3 separate regions of the Homo sapiens genome follow, and regions 1 and 2 are each linked to region 3. Evidence: fine-mapped expression QTL. A gene starts in region 3. Each other region holds a variant in brackets. All regions are shown on one strand. Distances are between the middles of the regions.

Region 1 (10,811 bases), 150 kb after region 3:
TTGTATTTGTTTTTCTTATGTAGTCTTTCTCTTCCAAGGATCAGCCTGAGATGTAAACGAAAGGTCTTTGCTCAGTCTGCATCTTTTCCTGGGCATGCGCAGTCACTTTCTGATTTTCCCTCTATATGCAGTTGCTTTTGAATGTCCTAGTCTATTTATTTATTTAGAGACAAGAGTCTCTGTCACACAGGCTAGAGTGCAGTGGCACAGTCTCAGCTCAGTGCAACCTCCGCCTCCTGGGTTTAAGTGATTCTCCTGCCTCAGCCTCCCATGTAGCTGGGATTACAGGTGCATGCCACCACACCTGGCTAATTTTCGTAATTTTAATAGAGACAGCGTTTCACCATGTTTGCCAGGCTGGTCTCGAACTCCTGGCCTCAAGTGATCTGCCCACTTTGGCCTCCCAAAGTGCTGGGATTACAGGTGTGAGCTACTGTGCCTGGCCGTAAATGTCCTAGTCTTAATGTCTGGCTCCCAAAGGGGAAAAAGAAAGAAATTGAAGGAGAGGAAATAGGGCACTGGCCCTTTAAATCTTTGCAAGATCACTTGAGCCAGAAGAGGGGCTTAAAACAATGGAGGGGGGTTACAAAAATGGCCACCCGACTCTGATACTTGGGGCAGGATCCTTTTTGCCCACCATGGCTCCAACAAACTGTGTGCAGGGCTGCTTGCTATAGGATTAGGGGATAGGTGGTTGCCACTGTGCTAAGAGCTGAAATTGACCAACATTTACAATAATTATTATCCAAGCCTCTTCTTCGGGAAGTTGTGAGCCCTCAGTAGACTCCAGAGTTTCTTAAGAATCACATTAGACAGATTCTGCCAATGCATTGGTTGTCTAGGTGGGGAAACAGATTTCTGGTGGCTTCTTACTCCACCATCTTCTCAGACTCTTCTCTAGTTTACGATTCTTACTTGAGTCAGGATCTGTATGACATTTTGGCAGTTTATTACCTGGCATCAAGATATTGCAGGCTCACCTTGTGAATTTCCTGTCTTAAATCTAGAATCAGTTTTTCTCTAAGAAGCCCTAATTCCATTCAGTGGGAAATGACATCCAGAATCTAAGCACTTAGGGGTATGCTTTGCTACTGGGTGAATCTTTACCTTTATGATTTGTTGATTCATTGCAAAAAGCACATACTTTCACCTCCTTCCTGTCTTCCCTTTTTGGAGGTCACTATTTGAGTTGCCCCCAAAGCTTGCTTTTGTGGATGTGTGGATTTGTTTGTTTGGATTATTTTTCCAAATTGTTTTATTTTGGACTAATTCTGTTGCTGTGCCATCAAATTCACTAATCTTTTTATTCTACAAAATCTAATCTGCCATTTGTTCCATCCAGTGTGTTTTGATCTCTCACATTGCACTTTTTGTCTCTGGAAGTTCATTTTCAAGTCTTTTTTTTTTTTTTGAGACGGAGTCAGTGGTGCAGGAGTGCAGTGGAGTGCAGTGGTGCAGTGGTTGCTCACTGCAACCTCCGCCTCCTGGGTTCAAGTGATTCTCCTGCCTTAGCCTCCTAAGTAGCTGGGACTACAGGCACGCGCCACCATGCCTGGCTAGTTTTTTTGTATTTTTAGTAGAGATGGAGTTTCACCATATTGGTCAGGCTGGTCTCAAACTCCTGACCTCGTGATCCGCCCACCTCGGCCTCCCAAAGTGCTGGGATTACAGCCATGAGCCACTGCACCCGGCCCATTTTCAGTCTTCTAAAAAATACTTTTCATGTCTCTACTTAATTTTTTGAACATATGGAATACAACTATAATAACCATTTATTGTCCTTGTCTAATTCTAACATCTGTGATGGTTCTAAGTCAGTTTCACATGATCGATTATTTTAATTTTGGATATGTTTTACTACCTGGTAATCACATTGTAAGTTTTACCTTGTTGGCTGCTGGATGTTTTGTATTTCTATAAATCTTCTTGAGCCTTGTTCTGGGATGGTGTGATGTTACTTGGAAAGTGTTTTATCCTTTTAGATTTTACTTTTATGATTTGTTAGATGGATCCAAAGCATTGCTCAGTCCAGATCTAATCATTCCCTCTACTGAGGCAAGACCTTCCCAAATATATCCTACCCAATACCCTGTGACTAAATTTTTCTAGTCTCTTTGCTGGGAACAGGCACTGTTCCAAGCCCTATGCGAATGCTGGGCATTGTTCTCTATAATCCTTTAAGATGTTTTTTCTTCTCTGCCTCTGCTAGTTTCCTCACACACATGTGCTTTGCTGAATCCTTGAAGGGGCGGGCCCCCTCTGCAAATCTCCAAATTTCTCTCTTTCTGCAGCTCTCCCCTCTCTCTGGTACCTTTTTCAGTGAATTATAGCTGCCTTGGTCTCTCCAGACTCTCAGCTCCCATTGATTCAACTTGTGGAGTCTACCTGGAAAGCCTCAAGGCAATAAGATGGGGCAATCCCAGGGTTCAGCTCTTGTTTCCTTTTTTCAGGGATCACTGTACTTGTTGTCTGATGTCCAGAGTCTTCTGTTGTTTTTGTATTTGGTCTGTTTGAGTATTGTTTTTTCAATAAGATAAGTCCAGTGCCTGTTACTCCATCTTGGCTAAAGCAGAAAACTTGATAGGTGCTGGGGTTTTTTGTTTGTTGTTTTTGTGACGGGGTGTCACTGTGTCACTCAGGCTGGAGTGCCGTGGCATGATCTCTGCTCACTGCAGCCTTGACCTCCTGGGCTCAGGTGATCCTCTCACCTCAGCCTCCTAAGTAGCTGGGACTACAGGCACACGCCACCACACTTGGCTAATTTTTGGATTTTTCTTGTAGAGACAGGGTTTCACCTTGTTGCCCAGGCTGGTCTTCTTGAACTCCTGGGCTCAAGGGATCTATCTGTCTCGGCCTCCCAAAGTGCTAGGATTACAGGCATGAGCCACCATGCCCGACCTGTCATAGGTTTTATATTTAAGAATTTGCCAAGCAGTTTTCCAAAGTGCTTGTACCATTTTAGACTTCTACTAGCATAATACAAGAGTTCTAATTGTTCCACAACCTCACCTACATTTGGTGATGTTTAGTTTTTTTATTTTAGTCATTTATTAGTTTGAGATGCTATCTTACTGTAATTTTGATCTGTGTTTGTGGTTGTCATGTGCTTTTAATCTTACGTAGTTTGGAACATTTATGACATTGCCTTTTTTTTTTTTTTTTTTTTTTAATTTAAGAATCCAGGCTAGTTGTTTTATGCCACCTTAGTTTGGATTTGTTTGATTGTTTCCTCATGATTAAATTCAGGTTAACCGTGTTTGTCAAGCATAGTACATGGATTATTGCATTAGAATATGCATTCGAATGCATATTAGTATATTGCATTAGAAGGCACATGGTGTGAATTTGTGCTTATCATTGGTGGTAGTAAGTTTGATCACTTGGTTAAGGCAGTGCCTTCCAGATTTCCCAGTTGTAAAGGTACTTTGTTCTTTTTGTAATTAATAAGCAATCTGTGGAATGATATTTTGACACTGTGACAATCCTTTTTCCCGACAGTCTTTCACATAGTTGTTTTAGTATTCACTGATTCTTACCTGAATCAGTAATAGTATACTATAGTGATTGTAAAAATGGTGATTTTCTATTTCTGTAATCCCTTATGTATTTATTATTTGGCTTTCTTCTCTAAAGAAGATGTTTCTCTTCCTCCTGCCTCCACACTTACTTTCAGATCAGTGTGGACTTGTTCTGTTTTTAATTCATATATTAACTCATAATTTTATCCTTTATAGTGGTCTGGCCGGGCGCAGTGGCTCACGCTTGTAATCCCAGCACTTTGGGAGGCCAAGGCAGGTAGATTATGAGGTCAGGAGTTCAAGACCAGCCTGGCCAATATGGTGAAA[C/A]CCCATCTGTACTAAAAATACAAAAATTAGCCCAGCGTGGTGGTACACACCTGTAGTGCCGAGAGGCAGAGGTTGCAGTGAGCTGAGATAGTGCCACTGCACTCCAGCCTGGGCAACAGAGCCAAGACTCTGTCTCAAAAAAAAAAAAAAAAAAGAAGTCTCCATGTTGGCTGGTGACATCCTTTTCAAGATGGTTCCTGTTTCTTCCTGACAGGTTCTTTTATTTGTTAGAACAGCAAGGTGTTCCAAGTTTACCCTGTTATTTTTCCTACCTTGGATTTGGCCATTTTTCCAAGGAGCTCAGGCTTTCCTTTAATGGAGAATGTTAAAGTCTGAGCACTAGACCATTACTATATATGTATGTCTTAACTTGCATGTAGAAGCCAGTGGGGGTGGAAGACATCAAGATACTACTAAAATCTCTGTAGTGCCCTGCACAATTTTAGACTCAGAGTATTCCTGCTGTGTGGTGTCATCAGGTTGTTCATACATAAGGACAACACATGGTGGCACTGGAATCAAGATTAGTTTTGTAAAATACAGAGCATTAAGCAAGTTTCCTATTTAAAAAAAAATGTTGGCATTTACGTTTTTGAGGTTTAAGTCTTTCTTGTACATTCATCTCTTCTATAGTTAAGGAATAATTTGTTTTTCCTTGCTTTGAAGCTGTGAGAGTGGGAATTTTTACCCTGGACACCAATTTTGATATTAGGGAAGAAACTAATTTACCTGAAGCTAATCAACAGCTTGAGGCTTGAGCCTACTGCTTTCTTTCACTATTTGCATATGTAGGTTTCACTTTTTCTTTTACCATTGAGTATTTTAATGTACATAATAATATTGATGAAGCCAGCCGCCCACAATTTAATGTTTCATGAATGCTTTCATTGACTATAGCATTAGACTTTGAAATTTTAGAATATTAACAGCTACATATTTATTCATTCAAGCTCTGTAACTTTTTATACTGAAAGAAAATAATACATAACATTTAATAGGGTGGAATTCACAGCTTGTCTTGCCGTGTTCTTCTTTTGTGCCGTTTTTTCCCTCCTTAATGAATTCCTAGATATCTGCATGGTATTTGAAGTTTTGGGGCATCATCTGCTCAAGTGGATCATCAAATCCAATTATCAGGGGCTTCCACTGCCTTGTGTCAAAAAAATTATTCAGCAAGTATGTATCTTGAATCAGCAAGTATCTTAGTCTTGACTATGTAGTGATTTTTTAATATTCTTGAAGTGTCAGGACTTTATTTTTTCCAATAGAATTTTTGTTTTAAGGCCGGGTGTGGTGGCTCATTCCTGTAATCCCAGCACTTTGGGAGGCCGAGGCGGGCAGATCACGAGGTCAGGAGATCAAGACCATCCTGGCTAACATGGTGAAACCTCCTCTCTACTCAAAATACAAAAAGTTAGCCGGGTGTCTTGGCAGGCACCTGTAGTCCCAAGCTACTCGGGAGGCTGAGGCAGGAGAATGGCGTGAACCCAGGAGGCGGAGCTTGCGGTGAGCCGAGATCACACCACTGCACTCCAGCCTGGGCGACAGAGCGAGACTCCGTCTCAAAAAAAAAAAAGAATTTTTGTTTTAAAATTCTTTGTTTTAAAAAGTAAGTTATTGGCTGGGCGCGGTGGCTCACGCCTGTAATCCCAGCACTTTGGGAGGCCGAGGCGGGCAGATCACCTGAGGTCAGGAGCTCGAGACCAGCCTGGCCAACAGTGCGAAACCCCGTCTCTACTAAAAATACAAAAATTAGCCGGGTGTGGTGGTAAGCGCCTATAATCCCAGCTACTCGGCAGGCTGAGGCAGGAGAATCGCTTGAACCCGGGAGGCGGAGGTTGCAGTGAGCTGAGATCGCGCCACCGCGCTCCAGCCTGGGCGACAGAGCAAGACTCCATCTCAAAAAAAAAAAAAAAGTTAATTGCTAAAATTAAATATTTCATTCAACCTTTAGAATTTATTGTGCTTATTCTCTTTTTAAATGTTTTAGCATAACCATTTTCCCCCAGGTTTGCCTCCTATAATAATTAGAAAGGGAAGCTGAGGTTCCTGACTTGGGAACATTGGAGCCCTTATCCAGAAGTTCTGGTTGCAAATAGTAATTTTACATGAATAGATAATTGCTATGTCAGATTATTGCCATCTCTTTATACAGCATGATTCATAGGCATTTTCTAATTTTCTAAAGAGCCTTCAATATACAGTATAGATTTTACCATCAGGAAAATATTAATACTTCAAGGTGCAAAAATTTGTTTGGATTATATGTCCTGGAAAGAGCTCCAAACTGGGCAGCAAGAGACCTCAATTCTTCCTCAGTGAGGAAATTTGAATTAAAGATATCTAAATGTCTGTCAGCACCTACATTACAACACTTAGAGGGTGTGTGTGTGTTGAAGTTTATTCTCAGTCTTTGCATTGTACATAGTTGAAGAATATCTCCAAATAGAATCAGCTTTGTAAAACATTGAAGAATTTTTTATTGTAAATAATTTCTTGCCTTTTTCATAGTTTAATCTTTCTGAGAAAGTTTATTTGTGCTTTTTTAAAAGGTGCTTTTATTCTCTATAGAAAACGCTATCATATCTTTTTTTTTTTTTTAATGTCATGTTATAATCTCTTACTTCTCCAGAAAGCCTGTATTTTGTGTTTGCAAGTCTGCCACTCTATTTCCATTCAGGTGTTACAGGGTCTTGATTATTTACATACCAAGTGCCGTATCATCCACACTGACATTAAACCAGAGAACATCTTATTGTCAGTGAATGAGCAGTACATTCGGAGGCTGGCTGCAGAAGCAACAGAATGGCAGCGATCTGGAGCTCCTCCGCCTTCCGGATCTGCAGGTGTATTTTCTTTTAGGGACTTCGCTATCATTAGAAGTTAAAAAGAAATTTCTATTTTTATTCTGTTACCAGGGAATTAAACACCACTCAATCCATTTCAACAATAACATATTTAAGAAACATTATCAGCTTCCAAGAGACATTCTCACTGTTACTTCCATAGGGGAAGGAGAAAACTAGATATTGTGTCTTTGTGTTGTATGTTATAAAAGCTGGTGTGTATTGTTTAAAAATATTTTTTCTTATGAGTTGATGATTTTTGAAGTGTTTACCTCTAACTGTGATCACACATGCTCATTTATAGGACTGGTAGTCTGTAGAGGGACAAGATAACATTGCTATTAATAGTTTAGGTTTAAACACTGGAGTAGACAGACTTGGTTTGAATTTGGGCTTCATCCTAGACTGAGAAACCTTAGCTGAGTTATTTTACTTTATTTTCCCTCAACTGCGAATTATTGGGATTAAATGGTAAAGCAGTTAGTAGTGTGCCACACAATATTATATACCAAATAAATTGCGGGACCAGGCACAGTGGCTCATGCCTGTAACGCAACACTTTGGGAGGTTGAGGTGGGTGGATGATTTGGGCCCAGAAGTTTGAGACCAGCCTAGGCAACACAGTAAGACCCTGTCTCTACAAAAATTAAAAAAATTAGCCAGGCATAGTGATGCGTGCCTGTAGTCCATTTACTCAGGAGGCTGGGGCAGGATGATTGCTTGAGCCTAGGAAGTCAAGGCTGCCACGAGTTGTGATAGTACCACTGCACTCGAGCATAGGCAACAAAGTGAGACCCTGTCTAAGACATAAAATTAAATAAATAAATAAAGGCTGCTTTATGATTTTTTTTCTTTTGAGATACAGATTTTAGTTTTAGTAGTGTGTCATTTTTTAGGAACTTGCTTGATCCTCAAGTTGAGTTATTAGTTATACACTTCTTTAAAAAGGAAGACTAAAGAAGGGGGAAATGGGGAGTTGGTTGTTAAATGGATGTAGTTTCTGTTTTACAAGATGAAAACATTCTACAGATCCTGTTATACAACAGTGTGAATAGTGTTAAAACCACTGAATGTACACTTATCTAGAGTATAAATTTTTATTATGTGTTTTTTGTTAACCACAGTTATTATACTAATATTTTAAAAAGAGGAAGACTGAAGATCCTACCTTCCAGCTAAGCTACACTGTTATCCATGACATGCTGTAGAGCAAATTACTATAGCTCTTGATGTCACCTAGACTCCCCTTTTAAAACTGACAGATTCTGGGTAGCATTTGAGGTGAAGAGGTTGTTGCTTGTCCCATTCTATTTTAAGCAGTGCATGGGAATGGAAAATAGGTGATTTTTAGCAACTTTAGTTTACCTGGGGAGGAAGAATTTTATTTATCCCTTTTTTTTAAGTTTGGCAATTTCTATTCATTATTTTCTTTAAAAATGGTAATAATATAGCTTCTACTTAAGTCATTTAAAAACAATAGTTTTCTCTGCAATGTAGACTACATAAGAAAGACTTTTCATTCTGGTAGAGTGTTTTATCTGAGCCTTAGTTTATATTGCCTGATGAATGCCAGAATTCTTACTTGGTTTTCTTTTCTTTTCAGTCAGTACTGCTCCCCAGCCTAAACCAGTAAGTATAAGGTGTTTTTATATTTAATTTTGATCTATGGACTATGGGCATGGGTTCTTCTGTTGTGGATGGTAACAGTTTGTTTCAAGTTTGAGAACCAAAAGGAAAAAAAATTCCTGCGCTTCTATAATTTTCTCCAGTAAATTCCCATGCACCTTCATCACATTTGTACTGGTGAGGCCTCTAAAAAATTCGAGTTTGTCTGAATGTAAACCAACCCCACGGACTGCTCAGAAGACCACACTTTGTTATTTATTCTGTTTTTATTTGGGTTTATAAGAGTATCCCGCATCTTTTAATTTAATGAAAGACTTAAGTGCTATGTTAGGGAAAGATTTGTGAAATTTAATTAGGAAGTAATTAAAGTTAACAACTATCTCCAACTGGGGGTAATTAATTAGCCACCTGAAGGCTTTATCTGTTTGTAATCTCCGCCCAGGCTGACAAAATGTCAAAGAATAAGAAGAAGAAATTGAAGAAGAAGCAGAAGCGCCAGGCAGAATTACTAGAGAAGCGAATGCAGGAAATTGAGGAAATGGAGAAAGAGTCGGGCCCTGGGCAAAAAAGACCAAACAAGCAAGAAGAATCAGAGAGTCCTGTTGAAAGACCCTTGAAAGAGAACCCACCTAATAAAATGACCCAAGAAAAACTTGGTATAAATAGAACATCACGAAAATTACTGTACAACACACTTTAACGTTAATTTATCATTGCTATATAATACAGTGGTTTCATACATACAACACATCTCTGGGGGTATCTTTATAAGAATATGGATCTTGTCATAAATGTTAGGCAGGTAATATTTAAATGTAATTTGTAACTTTTCTCAGGAAATGGAACATAGATTTCATTTAACAATTGGGTAAAAGTAAGATCTTGGCCCTTCCGGAAATAGGTTTTAGATGTTTAGTCATGTTTTTATGTCACTCAGTATAAGTTCTAGAAAATGTTTTAATCTTGTGAGAAATGTTTCTGTTCTTTCACTCACACACATATGCATATATCTTTTTTTGTTCGTTTGTTCCTTAGAAGAGTCAAGTACCATTGGCCAGGATCAAACGCTTATGGAACGTGATACAGAGGGTGGTGCAGCAGAAATTAATTGCAATGGAGTGATTGAAGTCATTAATTATACTCAGAACAGTAATAATGAAACATTGAGACATAAAGAGGATCTACATAATGCTAATGACTGTGATGTCCAAAATTTGAATCAGGAATCTAGTTTCCTAAGCTCCCAAAATGGAGACAGCAGCACATCTCAAGAAACAGACTCTTGTACACCTATAACATCTGAGGTGTCAGACACCATGGTGTGCCAGTCTTCCTCAACTGTAGGTCAGTCATTCAGTGAACAACACATTAGCCAACTTCAAGAAAGCATTCGGGCAGAGATACCCTGTGAAGATGAACAAGAGCAAGAACATAACGGACCACTGGACAACAAAGGTACCTATGCAGCTATACTTCCTCAACACTCCTTCCCTGCACAACACATTCACAGATTTCTAGACTAAAAGTATGATTGTTTTTGTAACTATAGCTTTACAACAGGTGTGTCTAAGTTACGTTTAAATTGTAATCTGTAGCTAACTTTATCCATCATGTACTGAGTACACAGCACTTCATTTGTTGCTGTGAGGGCAGAGGTTTTTAATTCTGGAAACTCAAGGCGTTGCTGTGCTCTTTTTGTCTCAGAAAATGTAAGTTGTCACTTGGGTATTGCTGACTGTATTACTCTTACCTTGGAGAGCTTTATTACTCATTGAGTATTTCTCTGTTCATTGAACAGTCTTATTGATGATGCCTGTTGTCTGTAGGAAAATCCACGGCTGGAAATTTTCTTGTTAATCCCCTTGAGCCAAAAAATGCAGAAAAGCTCAAGGTGAAGATTGCTGACCTTGGAAATGCTTGTTGGGTGGTAAGTTAAACTTGCCTTAATGGTGTTTTGAAGTGACTGGGAGGATGAATGAGAATTTGGACTTAGTTATGCAAAACATCCATAATTCTGTACCCAGATTGATACAACACTTCAGTGAATATTTTTTTACATTTAAAAAAACCTTTTACTATGGAAAAGTTTAAATATACTTACGAAAGTAGAATGGTAATCGTGATCATGAAAAGTCCTTCTGTTACCCCACCCCACTCCAGATACCCATCACCCAGATTCAGTAATGTCAACTCCTGGCCAATCTTGTTTTTAATATATATATCATTATTAACTTTCAGACACTCAGTGCCTATGTTCATACTCCCCTACTCCCATTTTCAAAATTGATGACTAACTTATAAATTGTAACCTCCTTTTAATTCACTTAACATATTTTGGACACTTTGCTTTGTCAGCCAGAAATTTAAATACAATTCAGTTCATTACATTGTTTCCCTAGTACACTTTAATCTACATATTTTTGACAGCTCTTTGTGATGAGACTCTGCACGCAAATCTTTGTATAGTTTTTCTTAGGACATGTCCTAGACATAG
Region 2 (11,127 bases), 33 kb before region 3:
ACTTGGGGGACTGAGGTGGGAGGATTGCATGAGCTGGGAGGCAGAGGTGGCAGTGAGCCAAGATCTTGCCACTGCACTCCAACCTGGGTGACAACAGGGCAAGACGCTGTCTCAAAAAAAAAGAAAACACTGAAATAACTATAGTCGAACTACAGTGATTTTTTCAGTGATATGAACATCACAATAAAAAGTAAACAATGGAATATTTTTCTTAGGGCAAACAAGTTCATTCTATTTTCAGAGACTTTCTGTAATTTAAAACACTTCAGAAGTCAACGACCTCAATTCTCATCATTTTACAGTGAAATGACTGGGCCTACAGTGGTAAAGTGACTTGTCCAAGGTCATATGGCCAATTGGTAGCTTGGATACAAAAGTGCTTTGAATTCGTTTCCCCCAACCAGACACTTTCATCAAAAGGAAGGGCGACTGTTTCTGATTATTCTGAGCCTGTGCTAACACTCTGCTCAGTGTTCTGCATTCAGTAAGTAGTCAACAAGTAGTAATGAGATTTGCTTCCAAGAGGTAAACTCAGTTATTGTTTATAAAAAACAGTATCCAGCTAGAGTTAAATAGAAAGAACGGATTCCTGCTCAACAGCCATAGTATTTATTGAATAAATGAATGAATGAATGGTTGAATGAATGAATGAAACCTTAGTTCAAAGGTAGATTTGTAGTTGCTGGGTCCTTACATGGATGAAGGAGCCAAACAAAGGCACCACTATCAGTAACACTTAACCTTCTAAATAGACACTGGCCTTAATTAAGGTCTTTTCACATAGGAAAAATAGGTTCTTAATCCGGTTCCAGAATGCCCAATTAGGCCAAAATACAGCATTTTGCACTTTGCACAAGTCAGCAAATCATTTCCTTTGTTATATAAATCCATCCTTAGTATACCTAAAATTTTGGGATACAGCTCAGATCTAACTCAAATGTTTTCCAAAGTAATTCACAAACACATTACTTCAGCATTTCTTCTACATTTAGGAAAACTATTTTTAAAAACCATCATTCTGTAACATTCCCTTTTCCAACTATAGCATACAGTAGGGCTCAACAAACTGTAATATACATGCCCCTGAGTAACATCCAGTAATCTCTGGAAGCCTCCATATTGTTGTATCAAGCAGGGCTGCGAGAAGAACAATTTTTCTTAGTTATTGGCTATTTTTTTCCTTTGTTTCTTAAACTTTCATTAGCAGGATCAAGGTTAATGTAGCCAAGGAGATCTTGTAGGTGGACCAAATTCTCCTCTCTTAACTTCTACTCTTCTACTCTCAGCCATACACTGTTCCAACTAAATTCAAATGGTGGAGAAATGTTTTTGCCACCTTTCCTCCTTCCCTTTCCATTTCATCTTCTTTATTTCTTTCTCCCTTTCCTTAGACAGAACATAGAAGTTCAAACATATCCCCTTTGTGTTCTGTGGGGAAGGAGTAAACGGTGTTTGCAATCAGCCCAGGATAAGAATGGGAGAAACTGAAACCAGGATAAGGGTGAGGAGAAACTGGTTAGGTTCAGCCCTGGGGTCAATGGGGGAATGGAGGTTAAGGAAGAGAAGTCACGATCTTCAGTTCTGTTTTGGCTTTCATAATAGTAACACTCTCCATTTAGGAATGCCAAAATTTCAATGTGACCAAAAGTATAACTGTGTTTAAGGTTTTTTTCTCTTTCATGGTATAGTGTATATGTGAACTGGGGGCAGGGAGAGCTGTGTCAACTCAGATACTAGAAAAGCTACTATAGTAGAGAGTTCACACATACATGGGAACACTTGCTGGAATCTGTCTTATGGCCCACCAATGTGCAACCTGGGCATGTGAAGGCACTAATGACATACGTGGCAACCCTTGCCAATGGGGTCAGGAGCCAGTGTATTAATGATCCCCATCTGAGGTGCATTACGTACAGCTTCTTAGATCTTGGCAGTTTTCAGCCCAATTGTCCATAGTGGTGACCAACTCAACATATACTCATAGAAGCTTTCTCTCCTTTCCTGTTTCATTTTCCCTAGCCCCCCACTACTGGTTCCTGAGAATCCCAGGCTCTGCTTTCTAGGGGTATCCCAGGCTAAAACAACAGAGGTGGTTACAAAGCTGAGAGAAGAAGCCTTTCTCAACAGGTAGAGTCTGCCCCTTATCCCAGTATAGAAATCTAATACTTCAAGGATCAGCATGTAGTTCTAGTATCATCTCCCACATGCATGGGCGATAAAAGAGGAGGGAGTCTATATGGCTGGGGATCCGTTACATTTCTTGAAGAGCACCTTTAAAAGTTGGGATCGGCCAGGCATGGTAGCATGTGCCTGTAGTTCCAGCTCCTCAGGAGGCTGAGGTGGGAGGATCACTACAGCCCAGGAGCTTGAGTCCAGCCTGGGCAATATCACAAGACCCCGTGTCTTTTAAAACAAAAACAACAACAACAACAACAACAACAAAACCAAACCTGGGATAAACACTTTGAAAAGAAAATCCATAGTCAAAACTCTCTCCACTCCTTTCTCCATGGAACTTTTGTAAGAATTCAAGACTGACTCTTCAATGGGGTACAATGTGCCTGAAATGATGTAAATACTAACACGCACCACCCATAACATACATCTTCTGGTATCCATCCCTACACCCAAAAAGAGGTGCATGATAGGAATAAAGAATTTTTTGAAGTCTATATGTTGCTAAATGGTTCAGGAATAGAAATGGGCTATTAGTCTTCATTCTGTAGACCAGGAAGGCAAATGCAAAAAATTTACTCACACATCATTGAATTCCTCCAGAGACCTTGCAGGTGTAAAAACGTCCAACAGACCAATCACCTGTAAGAAAATATAAAAATTAAAAAGTAAATAAATATTAAACTCAGTATAGTACCCATCAGGTCTTAATCTTCTTTTTTTTTAAAGAGTCAGGGTCTAGGCCGGGAGCAGTGGCTCACGCCTGTAATCCCAACACTTTGGGAGGCCGAGGCGGGCGGATCACCTGAAGTCAGGAGTTCGAGACCAGCCTGGCCAACATGGTAAAACCCTGTCTCTACTAAAAATACAAACATTAGCCAGGTGTGGTGGCGGGCGCCTGTAATCCCAGCTACTCGGGAGGCTGAGGCAGGAGAACTGATTGAACCTGGGAAGCGGAGGTTGCAGTGACCCGAGATTGCGCCACTGCACTCCAGCCTGGGAGAGTGCAGGTGCAGAGTGAGACTCTGTCTCAAAAAAAAAAAAAAAAGAGTCAGGATCTCACTCTTGACACACAAGCTAGAGTACAGTGACACCATCACAGTTCACTGCAGCTCAAGCAATCCTGTCTCAGCCTCCCAAGTAGCTGGGACTATAAGCACGTGCCACCACCATGCCTAGCTAATTTTTCTTTTTTTGTACAGATGTGTCTCACTAGATTGCCCAGGCTGGTCTTGACCTTCTGGCCTCAAGCGATCCTCCCACTTCAGCATCCCAAAGTGCTGGCATTACAGCAGTGAGCCACCACGGCCAGCCACGTCTCAATCATTTTAATAGGAACTAATTCAAAACCAGCTACCTCAGTTCCATAACATCACATCATATACTTAATAACTCCAACTAATTTTCTACCCAAATTATGCTTTTGTTTTCTACTTGTTAACATCAATTCTCATATTAACCCACTTTACCATTAAAAATCTTCATCTCTTTAGAATTTATTCATATGTAGTCAGTAGTTTATCAGAAGGCAAAAAGATTTAGGGTCCTTGCCTTACGTATGTACTAATGGTCTAATGAATTAATCCAACAGGTGAAAAAGGTCACACATCCATGGTTGTTACCGTAATATTGTGTTTTTTAAAAATGTATTCCACGAAAAATTTCCATATTAACTGTATATGCTTCAAAACTGACATTTTTAAAGTCTCAAAATATTCTCAGTATATTCTTGGTATTATTCTCACAAAGTCTTAATGTATAGGGTATTTAAATCAGACAATTTAAAAATGAAAAAAAAAGTCTATTTTTACACAGGGATAAAGCAAAGAGCTACTTAATACTCAATAACCCATGGTCTTTGAGCAGTTTTTCTGATCAGGAATTTATACTGATTTATCCACATACAGCACCCTCCAACCCCTACCTCCCATCTATTTTCCTTAAAACCCAGGCCATTCATTTCTACAAAGTTAGGCATTGACAAGGCAAATAAGAAATATATAATTCATTTGTAATACGCCCAGCCATATTTGAGAGTATCTGGTTATGAAGCAAGACTGTGGCCTCACTAGCACACTGTTCTAAACTGCCAACTTAAACACAAAGCTCTAGAAGTAAGATATGTTAACACTCAAAACATTATCATGAAAAAGATCTTCTAATTAGGATGTTACTCCACTCATCCAAATATCAGACTTTTTTTTTTTTCTTTGAGACAGAGTTTCGCTCCTGTTGCCCAGGCTGGAGTGCATGGCACAATCTCAGCTCACTGCAACCTCTGCCTCCTGGGTATAAGTGATTCTCCTGCCTCAGCCTCCCGAGTAGCTGGGATAACAGGCATGCACCACCACGCCCGACTCCAAATGTCACTTTTTAAAAGCAACTTTAATTTTACAGTCTGAACCTGAAAAGGAGGTGGTGGGACACATACTTGGAATTCAAGAATAGGTTTCAAGTCCTTGAAAATTGTTCCAAAGGAAATAGAATCACTTTCAGATCTTACCCAGACAACAGTACATAAGAAAACCAAAATTACCCATAATTATACCACCCATTATAACTATCATTAACATTTTGAGATATATTTCCTTTGATTTTCTGATGTACATAAATTAAATTGGGGTTACACCATGCATAGTTTTATATCCTGCCTTTTTACTTAATATTTAAATATTTGTATACAGCATATCTATCATTTGTGTATACCATAACTTAACCAATTTCCTATCTCTAGACATTTAAGGAATACTGCAAGAAAAATATATGTATTTTGCACATCTCATATTTTCTTCCAGGAAATAAATTTCAAGAAACAGAATTACAGAATCAAAGGACACCAATATATTTAAGGATCTTAATATTGTCAAATGGTCCTCCATAGAGGTAAGGCCAACTTACATGCCTCCCAATAGAGTACCTGTGACCTCATTCACAATAGTGCTTTAAATTTAAGTCAAATCCATTTCCTTTTACCTTCTCCATCTAAACCATAATCGTTTCCCTTGAGTTTGGTATACTCCTGGCTTAAGACCTCTGGTCTTTTAATCACTCTCCCTTATACCCACTTCTACTTAAGGTAACTGAGGTCTAGAAGCTAACTTTATTCACCGTTCCAATATTTTCTAATCAATGATTCTTGTTATCTGAGATGCCCATCTCCTCAAAACAATAGAAAAGTTTAAAACTATTTACATTGTTTTACAGTGTTTCCATTGTGATTGTGAAAATCCTCCTATGGAAATAAAACTAAATCATTAGAGATCTGATTTACACATGCAAGAGTTACCTCAAAAGACAAAA[G/A]TCAAAACTATTTTCAAATAAAAACTCCAATTTCAAACTGAAAACACAACAGACATTTTGGAACCAAGCAGCTGTAAGTTTGAACCCCAGTATCAGTTTGTGATTTCTTGGGTCCAAGAGCTTATAATTTCTTCATTCCAATAACGCTGGCACTTGGAATGGAGCCTGGCATTCAGCAGGAGTTCAATGAATGGCTGTTATGTAAATAATAATTGGCAAATACATTTGGTATCTTCTCTGAGTCCCATTTTCCTCATATGAAAAACATGAGGACATCATTGCTTATTTTCACAGTACTGACAGCAAGACTGAGCAGACAATGTATCTGAAGGTGCCTAGTACAAAAGGCTGACCCACTGTGGATCATCAAAATAAGTGGTGACCACAGCCCACACAGTTGAATAGACAATTACAAAATACAATATACCTAAGCAAACTATCTGAAGCAGCTACTTCCATTAACAGAATATGAGACATAAAGCTCAACTATTCAAATGATTAAAAACCATGACTGCAAGAAGAAAAATAAAGTAACCTGAAAAAAAATAGAGAAAAGCCAACTAGTAAATACCCTACCAAATTTTAATTTCCTAAAAAGGGCAATATTTACAATATTTAATGTGTTTAACATAAGCACACCGAAAATAACAATTTTGAGATTAAAACTACCCATGCTAAATCAAAGTACTTAAATTTTTGATGGGTTTTTACAAAATATCCCTCACTCCATTAATCATACTTATGAATATTAATCATAAGGAAAATACTGTAAAACAAAAGCTTATCAGCATTAAAATAGATCTGGAAAATATTTTAGGAATCTATTCATTTCTCATTTCTTTTTTTTTTTTTTAATATAATAATAGAGACTGGTTTTTGCCATGTTGCCCAGGCTGGTCTCAAACTTCTGGGTTCAAGCAATCCACCCACCTTGGCCTCCCAAAGTGCTAGGATTACAGGCATGAGCCACTGCGCCCAGCCATTTCTCATTTCTTAAATGGAAATTCCCTTCTAAATCAAGTCATATTTTAGTCTATTTCCTTAACTCCTTCTGCTGTTACATGACTTCAGTCACCTCAAAGTAACCCAGGAATCAAATTTTTAGAAAAGACATTCATAATACAAATAAGCAGCAAATATCTCTAATGATTATCCCATCATGGTCCAAAGCCTGGCAAATATTAAGTCGTATTTTTATTAAATTAGCACACATCCAAAAAAAAATACTTTAACTCAGTATCCAGAGACAATATTTAGCATATTTAACAAAAGCACACCAAAACAATCTCTTGGTCTACAATGGTAAGGTTAAATCTAAGGCTCCCAAATAAAATTTACAAAACAATTTCCTTGATCATTTTTAAATTCTAAAATGTACAGATCTCTAGGCCCATATATGGGCCATCTCTGTAGTGTCTGCCCAGACAGCAAAGGATGCAGCTGGCAGGCTGCCTCCCTTTAATCTTTCCTTAGAGCAGGTGTTAACGAGATCAAGGTCAGAAGTTCAATCAGGAATGGTCCAACTAACTTTGTTCAGAGAGAAACTCTCACAGTCACAGAGGACATCCCCTAGCTTCAGTCACTCACCTAATAAATGTTTATCTATTATTCATGATCACTAACAGAAGAGACAATTCAAGATGAACTACCGATTGTGGGTCAGAGGCATTTTTGTGTAAAAGATCACATGTGCCCTCTGGCACCTGAAAATTGTATTTGTTACCAACACCTAAAATGTTCACAAGTTTTAAGCGCCTGTTGCTGCTGCCTGTGGGAGGTTTGGCCGCTATAAAAATTGGATGGTGACCCAAAACAGTAATTTTTTAAAAAAGAAGAGGAGGGTAAACGAGATGAATTTCTCTGAAAACCCTCAATTAAACTTACCGGAAGTTTTGGTTCTTTATTGGGTAAAACTACTTTGACATTATAAGCACCTAACAAATGTTTTCAAAATAGGCTAAAATGCAGGAATTTTTCTACATTGAGTCAAGTCTTTTGGCTTCAAACATTTGCCAATGGAATAGAGAACTATGAGACATTCAGCCATGTGCCTTATTTTGTTTAAATAACAAATCACTGATATCTAGGTGACCACCAACTGTTAGAACTTAAACATCTTTATATAAAAAAAAGACTGCTAGTAAGCAAGCCACTTATAAAACAATGTATAGAAATTAAAATCCTATTTTTCTAATACCATGATCCCTAAACATTGGCTTAACATATTTATGAAGAAAAGCAAAACAATCAGTGTAGCACTGATAATCTCCTAAACCAGATGTTCTTAAATTAGCATAGCCACATCAATAGGATCCTAGTGGCTCCCAAAGGTGCTCTGGGGTTCCATAAATGTTTGGCTTGCATTTCACTTTCAAAATATCCTTTATACTTGCAAAGCTGTGACACTGTCTCTGTCACATATAATAATGTGTAATGAAAAACAGCATACACACTTAAATGTGTTAAAAATCAAACGCAAACACATCCCTTAAAGCTGCCAGGCCACTTTGATTTTATGCAGACCTAGGAATAAAGTTTCTGCTGCCAGCTTTTTCCGCATATCTCAACTTCTTGTAAACATGTCACTGATTAGGAAGGCTGCAGCTTCACACTGAACATTCTTAAAACTCTGGTTTGCACATAGCTACTTAAGTAAAATTATACTCAGGAATAGAAGTTGTCTGTAGAAATAGGATTTCCTCAATAGCATACAATCAAAATAAAATGTGAAAATAAAAAGCAGCAGCTGTGATTATAATGGCATCCATAATCCAATTACAAATTTAAGTCTTAATGTTCTCAATTTAGAAGAAATTTGCACTAATGAAACAAATGTACGCTAATGAAGAGTCACTTATCTGTGACTTTTTTCTCGCTATGAAGAAGTTAAATTACTAAAACAGTCTAAATAGTCAAATAATAAATTCACAGATTTTGAATTTTCTTCCACAAGGTAACAAGCAGTACAGCCAGAGGACTTTGAAATCTCTATGGCCATTGTTTCCACAATGCTACAAACTTCACAGTACCCTTCATATAGCAGTCACAGAAATTCATAACTTGATTTTGAAATTCAGTAAAATAAGTGTCTTCAGTCAACTGTCTTTTTACTTTCAGTTAGTATTCCAATTATATCCACTTATTTATCGTATTAGAATTTGTAAGCATCTTTGCAGAATGGCAACTGAATCAACAAATTGGTAAAAAAGAAAAAGTTATATTTAACTTAAACAATGCCTCTGACATATTTATTAAAATACGTGAATCTGGAAAAAAAGAAAAATTATTAACAAATATATAAAATAATAGCCATCTCTGATAGGACTTTCAGTGAGCCTAAGGCACTCTTTCTCAGATTTTTCCACTTAAAAATATTAAGGCTATATTATGAGAATATGGGAGTCTGTGGCTATTTTGTCTTTTAATAGCCACAGACTCCCATATTCTCATAATATAGCCTTAGGAAAACCAGGCAAAGAATACATAACTTCTTTTTAATATTTTCTCTTAAAAATTATTGTGAATTTTGTGTTGTATTTCATAACATATCCTTTAATTTTAAAATTTTAAAGAGTTCTTTCTCCTCTAAAAATCTTTGAGTAAAACTAAAACTCCAGGAAGATGCATCACTTTCATTCCAAGTCTTTGACCTGACATAACCAAGTGGCCACTAACACCCCAGGACAAGGAGCAGGGACCAACGTTTGATGCACTCCAGCGTATTTCCATCTGCAGTAATTAAAACATTTTTCCCCAGTCTATTCAAGATCAAAATGTATTCTTCCTTGAATGAATAACTTACATTTTCATGTTTCATATGTTTAAGTAACCGCAGTTCTCTGTAGGTTCTTTTCGCATGAATGATGGACTGAAATGGTCTGGAGAGCTTCTTCACTGCCACACGTAACCCCGTTTTTGTGTCAAAAGCAGCACTAAGGAGAAAAAAGGGAAAAAACCCACCATTAAAAAGCTGTTCTAAATATTATTTTGGGGTATTTATAAGGCTATTTCCAAATTAAAGGGTCTATAACAAAATACCAAAAAAAAGCATAAAGATAAAAAGCAAAATGACCTATTATCCCATTATCCAAATAAAGCTTCTGTTATTATTTTTGGTGTTTTCTCCTTGTCTTTTCTATGTATCTAAATCAGAAGTCAGCAAATTTTTTTCAATGAAGGGCCAGATAGTAATATTTTCAACTTTGTAAGTAAGACCTCTGTCACAACTACTCAACTCTGTGGTTGTATGAGGAAAGCAGCCAGAAAATAAGTTTTAAAATGGGTGTGGCTGTGTTCTAATAAAATTTACAAAAACTGGCAGCTGCCTGATCTAGATGAGCCAACAGATTAATAAACAGAGTTGAATTCTGTCTTCCCTGCCTAGGCCTCACTGTCGTCACCTTGCCACATCTGCTGCCTGCTCAGAGTCGAGGCCCAGGAAACCATGTTTTCAGGACAATAAATTGCCACAAATATTTCTTGAGCACCTACAAAGTACTTGGCACCTTCAGGGAATGGGGGAAGAGCAGAACAGAATAATAAAATAATTTCAAGTAGTGATGAAAATACTATGACTAAATAAAAGGGTAATGGGATAAAGAGTGACAGAAAGCCAGTGGAGTTATACCACTTTAGCTAGGATGGCTGAGGAATGACATCTGAGCTGAGAAGGAAACAATATAATGATTAAATTCCCTATATAAATATATAAGAAAAAGAGCTTCAAGCAGAAGAAATAATAATAATATTAATGTTTATAGAGTCTTTACCCACACATACAAGAAATTGTTCTAAGCCCTTTACATTTATTTGTCTCAATTCAGCTTTTGTATTTCCCCGAATCCCCTATGAAATAAGTACTATTATCATTCTCCCACTTACAAGTAAGAAACTGAAGCAGAGAGAAGTTAGGTAACTTGACCACGGTCACAAAGCTTAAAAGCGGCAGAGCAGGGAGTCTGGATCCAGAGCTTATGCTACTGACCACTTGACTCTGCTATCTCTCAGAAGAGCAAGTGCAAACAAACGAAAAAAGAAACAGAGGTAGGAAACGTATGGCATGCTGGAGTGAGTGACAGAAAGACAGAAAGGCTGTGTGGGTAGAGCACAGGGAGCAAGGGGAGAGTGGGAAGGGATGACGTAAGAGATGCAGGCAGCAGCTAGATCATGGAGGACATCTATAGCAAAAATGCGATGTGTATTTTAATTATTTTTAGAAATCGTCGCCAGGCACAGTGGCTCATGCCTGTAATCCAGCACCTTGGGAGGCCGAGGCGGGAGGATCACGAGGTCAGGAGCTCGAGACCAGTCTGACCAAGATGGTGAAACCCCATCTCTACTAAAAATACAAAATTAGGCGCAGTGGCAGGTGCCTGTAATCCCAGCTACTCAGGAGGCTGAGGCAGGAGAATCACTTGATCCCAGGAGGCGGAGGTTGCAGTGAGCTGAGATTGCACCATCGCACTCCAGCCTGGCAATAAGAGTGAAACTCGGTCTCAAAAAAAAAAAAAAATAGTAATAACAGAAATTGTCTGGGCCAGTTCCATTATGCCTCATCCTCCAGTTTGTCTCAGTCTCTAACATGTATCCAAGACTTTCTGGTCATCTGTTATCACCAAACTCTCTGCCTGCCAAACTTGCTTTTACAACTCT
Region 3 (10,614 bases):
TGAGAAAATTGTTTTGTCGAACAATACTTAAATGAGCAGTGGTATGTGACTAATCAGTGAGCCTGCCAGTTTCTCAAGCTGCAGTGTTCTTGCAGGCACTACCACCGCCGCCCCTCCACGGAAAGGAAATACGCTTTCAACCGAATCGGAAACACACCACTCAAGCTGGCACAGTGCTCACCGAGATAAAGTCGGTATTTTAAGCTCTATGGATCGCTGTTAATTCAAGTGCGAATTCAAAAAGAACGCTTTTCAAGATGGGATTTCGACAGAGTTTTGAAAAAAAAAAAAAAAAAAAAAGGCCCGGAGAGAGCTCCCTTCCTGGTCAGTTTTGTTCAGATGACCGCAGTCTTCGGGTTGGGCTGTGCCCTTCTGCTTCTCCCGGCAGTTCCCCGAGCTTGTCTGCTCAGAGGACCCAGGGTCCGGAGCCCCAGCGTGGGCGCATCACGGGAGAGGGTCCTTCTGCTCCAGGTAGGCAGGGAGACCCCCAAGGAAGCGGCCCTTCCCCCGGTGCCTGTTGCCGAGCAGCAACCCTCCGAGAGGGGAAGGCGCAGGGTGCTAGCCAGAACCGAGCTCCAGCACCACCACCTACCTCTCGCAGCGGACCTGAGTGCTGCACACGGTGGACCGCATACCTGCGTGAGTGCAGGGCGAGGGGTGCTGGAGGTGCAGAACGGGCAGAGCTCGAAGGGGCAGCAATGCCCTCCCCCGAGGAAAATTCCTGCCACTTGACGCAACGCTGAGCAGTGGAGCAGGCCTGGCCCTCGGGCGCGAGGGGCCACCCTGCCCACAGCGGCCCCAGGCCCAGCGACACTCACCACACAGAGCCATAGGCGCCAGAGCCCACTGGAGACAGGTTCTGGTAACGCTCGGGCACCTCCCAGATTGTCTTGTTCAGCTCCTGCCGGTAGAACGTGGGCCTCTCCTGAGACATTTTCCAGCGGCAGCCGCCGGGCAAGAAGGTGGCCCTGTGGGGCCCCCGCCTGCACCCGCACCCTCTCCCCGGCCCTTGCTGCCCGCCCAGCCGGGCGGGGACCTTGCGCTGGTCGCCCGCGCAGGTGCGGCTGCCGCGACCCCGCAGACTCCCGCGCGCGCGGCTGCTGTCAGCCGCAGCGGCTGGATGTGCCCCTGCGACTGGGGCAAGCCCCGCTAAGGGCAGGGACGCGCTCCGGCGCTCAAGACTGCGCCCGCCGCGATCTCCCTGCACCTTCGCCCCTACAAGGCCGACTCCGGGCTGCGTCGCAGTACTCCCGTTCCAGCTGCTGCGCCCGCTAAGGCTCCAGTGGTCGCGGTTCCAAGAGCCAGCAAACGGGAGCCTCCCGCAGTACTCTCGCGAGAACAGCTCCCGGGACTCTCCGAGAGCCGAGATTTTACCCAATATGGAACCTCTCCGCGGGCGGGGCTTCGTGAGAGAAGAGGATGGGAGGAGCAGTTCTCGCGAGAAGAGAACAATAACTGGAGACCAAAGGCAGAAACTCCCAGGGACTGTCTCCTTAAGGGCGCGAAGGCGGACCGGGGAAGGAAGAGAGAAGCTGGCAGCACACGCCTCGCGCGCCTCACCGTGGCCGGCGGGGCAAATACCTGGCTCTGTGGTGGAAAACGACACTGACAAATAGCGTGTCGGGGAAAGAGTCAAAAGATCTTTAACTGCGAGTAGTTACCAGCAGCAGAGCACCTGCTCACCTGAACCCCCAAATTCCAAAAAACACTTGCATAAAAAAGAGACAAGTGGCCGGGCGTGGTGGCTCACGCCTGTAATCCCAGCACTTTGGGAGGCCGAGGCGGGCGGATCACCTGAGGTCGGGAGTTCGAGACCAGCCTGACCAACATGGAGAAACCCCGTCTCTACTAAAAATGCAAAATTAACCGGGCGTAGTGGCGCGCACCTGGAGTCTTAGCTATTCGGGAGGCTGAGGCAGGAGAATCGCTTGAACCCGGGAGGCGGAGTTGCGGTGAGCCGAGATCGTGCCATTACACTCCAGCCTGGGCAACAAGAGCGAAACTCCGTCTCAAAAGAAAGAAAGAAAGAAAGAGACAGGTTCCGGCCAGAAGGCTGTTGCATTCCCATCTGCTCAAGGACATATGGGTTACTCTTTGAGATGCTGACGAAATATGTCCCAAAGGCAAATGTTAACCCTGCATCAAAGCTGAGGCTTTCCAGGGGCTGGGCTCAGTGGCTCACACCTGTTATCCCAGCACTTTGGGAGGCCGAGGCGGGTGGATCACGAGGTCAAGCGATAGAGACCATCCTGGCCAACATGGTGAAACCTCGTCTCTACTAAAAAAAATACAAAAATTAGCTGGGCGTGGTGGCACGACCCTGTAGTCCCAGCTTCTCGGGAGGCTGAGGCAGGAGAATTGCATGAATCCAGGAGGCGGAGGTTGCAGTGAGCTAAAATCGCGCCACTGCACTCCAGCCTGGCGTCAGAGGGAGACTCCGTCTCAAAAACAAAAACAAAAACAAAAACAAACCGAAGCTTTACATTAAAACTCTCCCAGTTAAACTTACATGCAGAAAAATCACCCTGGGAGTTTAAGATGCAAGTTCCCAGAACTCACAGGGAGTCTAATTGGGTAGGTCAGAGGAGGTCTTGATCAAGAGCATGCATTTTTATAATACATCTTAGGTGATTCTGATTCAGGAAAGTCTCTGATATCTCCCTTTGAGAAGCATTTAAAAAACCGTTACACTGAAGATTTGAAACTGACTCCTATCCTGAAGAGCCATCAGTGAAGAGGATTTTAAGCATTTAACTCAGGCCTCTTCGAGTAAGGAGAATAGGGCAGGAGTCTCATCGAATTTAGGCAAGTCAACTGACCTTTCCTGAACCTCAGTTCCAGCTTCTACGAGAGAATTCCTGCCCTGCATTCCCGACTAACAGAGTCATTTGTAAAAACCAAACAAGATAAATGTGAATGGGCAAGGCATTCTAACCCCATGCCTACATCCATTATCAACCTATGCCTATGCTAAAGCTTGTTACAATGAGCAGAAGAATCAGATCCTGTCTCATTCTCTTAGTTTCTTGTATTAGAAATAACTAGATCCAAGCCAGGACATTTCTCAACATTTCCCGTGATTATTCTATTTTGTGTCATACACACCTTGGAGGGCTCAGACTTTGCATATCTTGTCCCAACATCTAGCACAATGTCTAGAACATAAAACATGTGTCATAAATATTTGTTGAAAAAATTATGAACAGTGACCATGATTTCAAGTGGTACAGTATCCTCAGTCCTCTTCAAGGAAAGCAATATAAAACCAAAAAACAGATAGTCATGGGTGATTCATGGAAAGCTGTTTTGGATCCAATGTAGCTTAGGCTGGAATTCTCTTATCTACAAAAACATGTTGCTTGAGAATGTTCCAAACTAGGGAGGATAGGAAGCTTTCTAAGAAGTAATGGAGGGTGAAGGGGAAGTAAGAGCAAAAACATGATTGTGAAGACATGAGGGATGGGGTTGGGGGGATCAAGGGAATGAGGGAATGGTTACAAAGGGTGAGGAGGAAGCTTGGAAGTAGGAATCCTCAGAAATGCACATTTTTATCCTACAAATTGGGATGATGAGGTGAGGGTGAATGAAAGGGTAAAGATAAAGTAAGCAGTATATTCATACACTCATTCAACCAATGTGTATTAAATGCCTACTAGGTGTCAAACACTTGCAGTTTAAAAGTGATTAAAAACTACAGTTGCTGCCGGTGTGGAGCTTACAATCAATGGGAGGGCAATCATTCAACAAAAATTAATTGAATACTTCCTATGTCCACCACACTGCTGTAGGCACTGATAATAAAACAGTTAATGAAAGGGATAAAAGTCCTTGCCCTCATAGGGGTAAGATGATTTACAAAAAGGAATACATAAAGTGCATTATAAGGTAGACATTAACACAGTCATCAAACAAACAAGTGTAAAACTGTAACTGGGCCAAGCAGGAATACAAGGTGGAGTGAGAGACAGTGCTAGGGACAGGGATAGGGTGGGAGGAGGGTAAAGGGAGTGAGTGCAGATGGCATGTCTGCATCCAGAGCAGATCTGGGCAGGAGGGTGTCATTCAGTGGGGAGAGCCGGGTTTGTGGGGCAGACAGCCTATGGTTGGAGACCTGGGTGACCCTCCTAGCCTCCATTTCTTTTTACCTCTTCTGACCTGAGGAAGGCTTAAGTCTTCCGGAGACGTTAGTGAATTACCGTCTGTGCAGTACACATGTGACACATGTGCACTGCTGTATGTTCAGGACACGAGGCCTGGCACCAAATAGGCCCTCGATCAAGAATAGCAAAACCTCGGAGAGAGAAGGAGCCTTGGTATACAGGTTTACCAAATACCAAGGGGATCCCACGACTCAGGTATGAGGAGGGCGACCCAGGTACCACTTTCCTGGCTCCCTAGCCCAGCTGCTCATGCTCCTCTTCCTCGTCCCCTCCCCCACTCTCATCTCCTCAGCCCGCCCGGAACGCCCGCGGGCTAGGCCACAACGGCTCGGGAACCGCCGCCGGTATCCGCGTCCGCAGCGCCGCCAGCCAGGCGAGAGCCGTGTGGGATCCCAGCGCCCGCACTCCCGCCCCCGCCAAGGAGCCAGGTGAGCCGCTGCTGGGAGACGCCTGGGCGCCGGGGGCTGCAGGTCCCAGGGCGGGGGCTGCGTCCGTCACCGGCAGGTACCCAGGTATGCCGCAGAGCCAGGCACGCCGTGGGCACTCAGTCAGTATCTGTGGAATGAATGAATGATGGTCGTCCCTGGGAGCTTATCTCTGAGGTATTGTCTCTACTTTCAAAGGCCGTGTGGATGGCAATGACAAGAGACAACAGTGTGTGCGTTTTGCAAGCTGCATCCTTTCAAATTCTCCTGTCTATATTGTCAAAAGCCCCAGAACTGACGTGCTACCTGCACCCCACCGCCTACCCCATCCATTTCCTCCTGAGGCCTGACTGCCCGGCCGTTCCTCTTCCTTTCAGACCCCACTGCTTTTGTTAATTTTGTTCCCTGTGACTGAATCCCCACCCCCACCTCCTTGCCCCTTTCTTTTCATGTCAAATGCCGTTGATGTGTCAGGGGCCCCGTGAAGCCTTCTCCAGCACCCCCACCCCAATAATGAGCATCTCTCCAACACACCATGTTACTCTATCCACATTGCATGGAAGGTGGTTGTCCTATGTTTATGTGTCCAATGGTCATCCGCTTAAGGACTGTCATCTTACTAGTCATCCCTAGCCACTAGCCAGAGTGACTAAAGGATCTAAAGGCCAGGCTCTTTGCTTATACCTTTTCTGTATTCCCAATACATTCTCCATAAAAACCTAGGTAGTAACAGGTGTAGGGTTGTTTCTGATGGAATTACAAATGCTTATTTTGAAAATTCGGAAGTAAATTTTGCCTTTCCGTGATTATAGAAAACATAAGAAAGTTAACAATATCAGGGGGAAGATATTCCTGCAACTAAACTAGCTTTCAAGATTTCATATTATTTGGGTCAATAGCTAAAAAATTGGATTGTATTTAAACTTTTTATTCTTGACTTTTTTTTTTTTTTTTTTTTTTGAGACAGAGTCTTGCTCTGTCGCCCAGGCTGGAATGCAGTGGTTTGATCTCGGTTCACTGCAACCTCTGCCTCCTAGGTTCAAGCGATTCTCCTGCCTCACCCTCCTGAGTAGCCAGGACTACAGGCACGCCATCATGCTCGGCTAATTTTTGTATTTTTATTAGAGACGGGGTTTCACCATGTTGGCCAGGCTGGTCTTGAACTCCTGACCTCAGCTGATCCAACCGCCTTGGCCTTCCAAAGTGCTGGGATTACAGGCATGAGCCACTGAGCCATGTCTGGCCTATTCTTTACTTTTAAAGCACTCTGAACACAGATAATGTAAATAATTAGATAAATGGATGGATGGATGGATGGATGGATGGATGGATGGATGGATGGATAAGGGTACTATGGAGGGTGAAAGAGCTAGGCCAAAAGTGCTTGTATTTTAACAGGGCCCCCAAATTTAGCACTGAAAGGCTCATGAAAGATAATCCACTATATTTATAGTGGTAGTCATACTTTAATTTTTATCAGAATCACCTGGACAGCTTCTTTGCTTTTTTTCTACCTAGCAAGACCTACTGAATCAGAATCTCTGGGGGCCCAGCAGTCTGGACAGCTTCTTAAAACAGACTGATGGCCCCCAGAGTTTCTGATTCAGTAGGTCTTGCTAAGTGGGGCCTACTCAACAGTAGGAGTTTCTGGTCATTGCATCTTCTTGGGAAGTGTCCTGCTAGTACATGAAAATGAGCCACTAGGATTTCTATGAAATCAAGAAAGACATAATGGAGCTGGAGAAATTCCAAAGAAAATTACTTAAAAAAAATAATAAGGAAACCATGCGTTTACCCTTGCTGCTGTTAGCCAGACATTTGATGGAGTTCCTTAAAGACAACTTTCCACCTGCTCCTCCTAGCCATCCTCACTGTGGTCGTAGGAGTTTATGACTTGATAACATCTCCTAGACTAATATTAATGGTCTCCAATTGGCTGTTTTGCCTCAGTCTCTCCTATCTCCACTGTCCAACAACTTTTTGTGATGATGGAAATTTTTTATATCTGCATATCTGCACTGTCCAGTAAGGTAACCACTAGCCATATGTGGCTGTTGAGCACTTGAAATCTAGCTAGTATAATTGAGGATCTGAATTTTTTATTTTAAGTTTAAATAGCCACATGTAGCCAGTGGCTACCATACTGGACAACTCAGCTCTAGAACATAACACTGGCACATTTCATCTTCCCAAAATGCATCTCTGTGCGTATTACTACTTCTGCTGAAAGACTTTAAATAGGCCAGGCGCAGTGGCTCACGCCTGTAATCCCAGCAATTTGGGAGGCCGAGGCGGGAGGATCACCTGAGGTAGGGAATTCAAGACCAGCCTGGCCAACATGGCGAAACCCTGTCTCCACCAAAAATACAAAAATTAGCCAGATGTGGTGGCACATGCCTGTAATCCCAGCTACTCAGGAGGCAAGGCAGGAGAATCGCTTGAACCTGGGAGGTGGAGGTTGCAGTGAGCTAAGATCGCGCCACTGAACTCCAGCCTGGGTGACAGAGCTGTACTCCATCTCCAAAAAAATAAAAAATAGGCCGGGCGCGGTGGCTCACGCGTGTAATCCCAGCACTTTGGGAGGCCGAGGGAGGCAGATCACGAGGTCAGGAGATCAAGACCATCCTGGCTAACACCGTGAAACCCTGTGAGCTGAGATCACGCCACTGCACTCCAGCCTGGGCGACAGAGCGAGACTCTATATCAAAAAATAAAATAAAATAATATACATATATATTTATATGTATACGTAAACATATGTAAAGTAATTGACAACATTTAAAAGCCAGAAGATTCCACATAAAAATCTGGCATTATGGCTTCTCCTGGAAAAGATCAGATCTAAGCCATTCCGGGCCCCACATTGACCGATGGCAAAAATGGCTAGAGCTAAGCAGCTTCTGCTGCCTTTGCCAGCCCCACTGTTCCCACCACTCCTTGACGGTCATATTTTGCCTATTTTACACCAATCCTCCTTTAATGTCACTTTCAGAACAAAATGCTGGGTTCTAGACTCTCGATGTGACCCAGGATATCAGTTTTGTCATTAGCAGACTAATTAGGCTTGTTTAGGTTGCTGGGAACAAAGAGACTACTCATGGAAGTACATTGGACAATTATACGGGGAAAGTAAGGAAGATTGGGTCTGTATTCCTATGGGTGGGGAAAGAAAGGTGGGGGGGGATTCCTTACATTTCAATATACAGTTCTACCTTTTTTTCTTTTTGTAAGAGACATGAGGCACTAATTATCTTAAGTAATATATTGTAAAATACCTCTCCCATCCTCTTCTGTATTCCCCAGTCACCTCACTGGTTTAGAGAATTTGTGATCTTTAGTTCATGGTTGTTATACAGCATATTACTTCTACCCAATGCTTTGAGGGTAAAAATACAATATATAATTATGGCCCAATTACTTACATTTTCTAAAATCTTGGTTTTACACCTGTAAAATGAAAGAAATAGTAGTACTGGTATTGTTGTGGAAATTTAATGACATAACTCGTGAAGAAATCTAGTGCAATGCATGGCATAGGATAAATGCCCAATAAATGTTGGCAATGATGATGATGATGATTCTTCTGAAGGAAAACAAAGTTGCTGACACATTAAACTTATCTGCAGCATCACCCATCATCTATATAATTGTGTAATCTATATAATTTGAGGGTTTACCAATATATTTTATAGGTATGTGGTTTATACATATGCTTTTTTACATTTATGTGGAAGAATTTTAGAGTTTATGCTTTTTTTATTGTTCAAAAACATAGATTATTAAGACTGGTTATACTTTCTCCCAGAGATGGATCCCTATCCATCCTCATTTACTCTATCTTTTCAATCTTTTAAAAAAGCAGGATAATATAGATTTTTTTTTCTTTTAGAGACAGGGTCTCGCTCTGACACCCAGGCTGGAGTACAGTGGTGCGATCCCAGCTCACTGCAACCTCCACCTGCTGGGCTCAGGTGATCCTCCCACCTCAGCCTCCTGAGCAGCTAGGACTACATGCCATGCCATCATGCCCAGCTAATTTTGTTTCTATTTTTAGTAGAGACAGGGTTTCACCATGTTGCCTAGTCTAGTCTTGAACTTCTATAGCTTTTTCTGCTACACCATGAGGCCACTAACTGTATACTTGGCAGTCATTCAAGAAACACTTGTTAAGGGCCTGCTAAGTTGCTAAGTGAAAGCCATTCTTTTGGGTCCTGGGGCTGCAACTGTGAATAGTCACAGTCCTGCTTCCTGGTCTTACATTTTATGGGGGAAACAGACAATGGACAAACAGACAAATAATGAATCAGGTGCTGGCAAGTGCCGTGAAGAAAAGTAAAAGGTAAAGGGATAATGATGTCTGCTATTTTAGAGGAGTTACAAGACTTGTATTGAGCACTTAACCCTTCATCTGGACTTCTTCATATATGCTGGATAGTGAGCATTTTCAGTGAAAATTGTTGATTAATACTGTCCACCTCTTGATCATTTTCCTACAACATAACACAACTGAATATAAAGAAAACTAGGCCTCCCAGCAGGACACCTGGGTTCTAGTCCTGGCTCTAATAAGTATCAAACAGCAAAGACTGTTTAAACTTCTGGGTTTTGTTGTCTCCATTTGAAAAATGAAAAGAATACACATAAAATTATACAACTTTGAGAAAGAGTTTTTTACAACTGAAAGATGCTATGCAAGTGTAAAACATTATTATATAGGAATTTTATTTCCTTAAAAATATGCCGAGGATCTGGATTACTGAAAATGCTCTTTTATTTGCTCTCTTTCCACTCATCCAGGAATGGCACAACTAGAGAGGAGCGCCATCTCTGGCTTCAGCTCTAAGTCCAGGCGAAACTCATTCGCATATGATGTTAAGCGTGAAGTATACAATGAGGAGACCTTTCAACAGGAACACAAAAGGAAGGCCTCCTCTTCTGGGAACATGAACATCAACATCACCACCTTCAGACACCACGTCCAGTGCCGGTGCGTGTGTCCAATCTTTCACCTGCTGCCGAGCCGGGCAGGACTGAAACCTAACCTGACTCCTTTGGGGTCCGTTTCTCTTTCTTGTCTGAGTTCCTGTAATCAGAATCATGCAGTTTATTGTGCAATTTTTCTTCAGTCATTTTTGTGGTTTGTCTTGCAGTACCTTTTCGATTGTAAACTTCCTGGGCATAAAGATCTTGGATGTCCCTATGGTACCTAAGGAGGATATTTCATAATTCCATTGTTCAATCAACCATGACTACCAGACTCCCGACCAAAAATAAGATAGCCAGCAAGACGCAATGGCTCACGCCCGTAATCCCAGCACTTCAGGAGGCCAAGGCAGGCAGATCACTTGAGTCCAGGAATTTGAGACCAACCTGGGCAACATGGTGAAACCCCGTCTCTACTAAAAATACAAAAATTAGCTGGGCGTGGTGGCACGTGCTGTAATTCCAGCTGCTCAAGAGGCTGAGGCATGAGAATTGCTTGAACCTGGGAGGCGGAGGTTGTAGTGGGTCGAGATTGTGCCACTACACTCTAGCCTGGGCAACAGAGCAAGTCTCTGTCTCAAAAAAAATAAATAAATAAGATAGCCATGGTGGACTGATTAATGGTAGGGGAATGAGATTCTTCTAGTCTCATATCCAACAGTGCCCACATGGTGGTACTCATGGTCACTAAGGTAGAATCTACCACCACCACCTCTGATACCCGCTGTGACTAGCTAGGTCCTACAGTTCAGGGGCTCTTACCCTGTTTTTGTGCTTTGAACCTTCTAGCAGTCTGATAAAGTTAATCAACATCTTTCAGAATAATTTTTTAAATGTTTTTTATTGTGGTGAAATATGTATAACATAAAATTGGCTATTTTGACCATTTTTAAATATACAATTCAGTGGCATGATTGACATTCGCAATGTTGTGAAACCATCACCGCTATTTCCAAAACTTTTTCATCACCTCAAACAGAAATTCTGTTAAGCAATAATTCCCTATTTCCCCACCCCTCAGCCCAAGTAACCTCTCTTCTGCTTTC

What was found.
Region 1: its variant is fine-mapped to the expression of SLC26A8 in whole blood (TOPMed, PIP 0.97).
Region 2: its variant is fine-mapped to the expression of SLC26A8 in whole blood (INTERVAL, PIP above 0.99).

The regions. Positions count from the first base shown.
Region 1 is chr6:35,868,443-35,879,253 of GRCh38, reverse strand. SRPK1 (SRSF protein kinase 1) reads left to right here. Exons shown (of 16, transcript NM_003137.5): 7 at 4,915-5,021; 8 at 6,526-6,691; 9 at 8,295-8,320; 10 at 8,760-8,973; 11 at 9,353-9,772; 12 at 10,144-10,244. Among named protein-coding and RNA genes, the nearest start is that of SRPK1, 47 kb to the left of the region's middle. The variant C/A (reference allele first, on the strand shown) is at 3,846.
Region 2 is chr6:36,050,979-36,062,105 of GRCh38, reverse strand. It overlaps MAPK14 (mitogen-activated protein kinase 14), which reads right to left. Exons shown (of 12, transcript NM_139012.3): 2 at 9,278-9,407; 3 at 2,759-2,817. Among named protein-coding and RNA genes, the nearest start is that of MAPK14, 29 kb to the right of the region's middle. The variant G/A (reference allele first, on the strand shown) is at 5,476.
Region 3 is chr6:36,018,478-36,029,091 of GRCh38, reverse strand. It overlaps SLC26A8 (solute carrier family 26 member 8), which reads left to right and starts at 4,451. Exons shown (of 20, transcript NM_052961.4): 1 at 4,451-4,588; 2 at 9,383-9,572. The coding sequence starts at 9,385. It overlaps MAPK14 (mitogen-activated protein kinase 14), which reads right to left and starts at 1,284. Exons shown (of 12, transcript NM_139012.3): 1 at 819-1,284. The coding sequence starts at 934. RefSeq lists a silencer at 944-1,043 and enhancers at 1,234-1,673, 4,005-4,504, 4,505-5,006.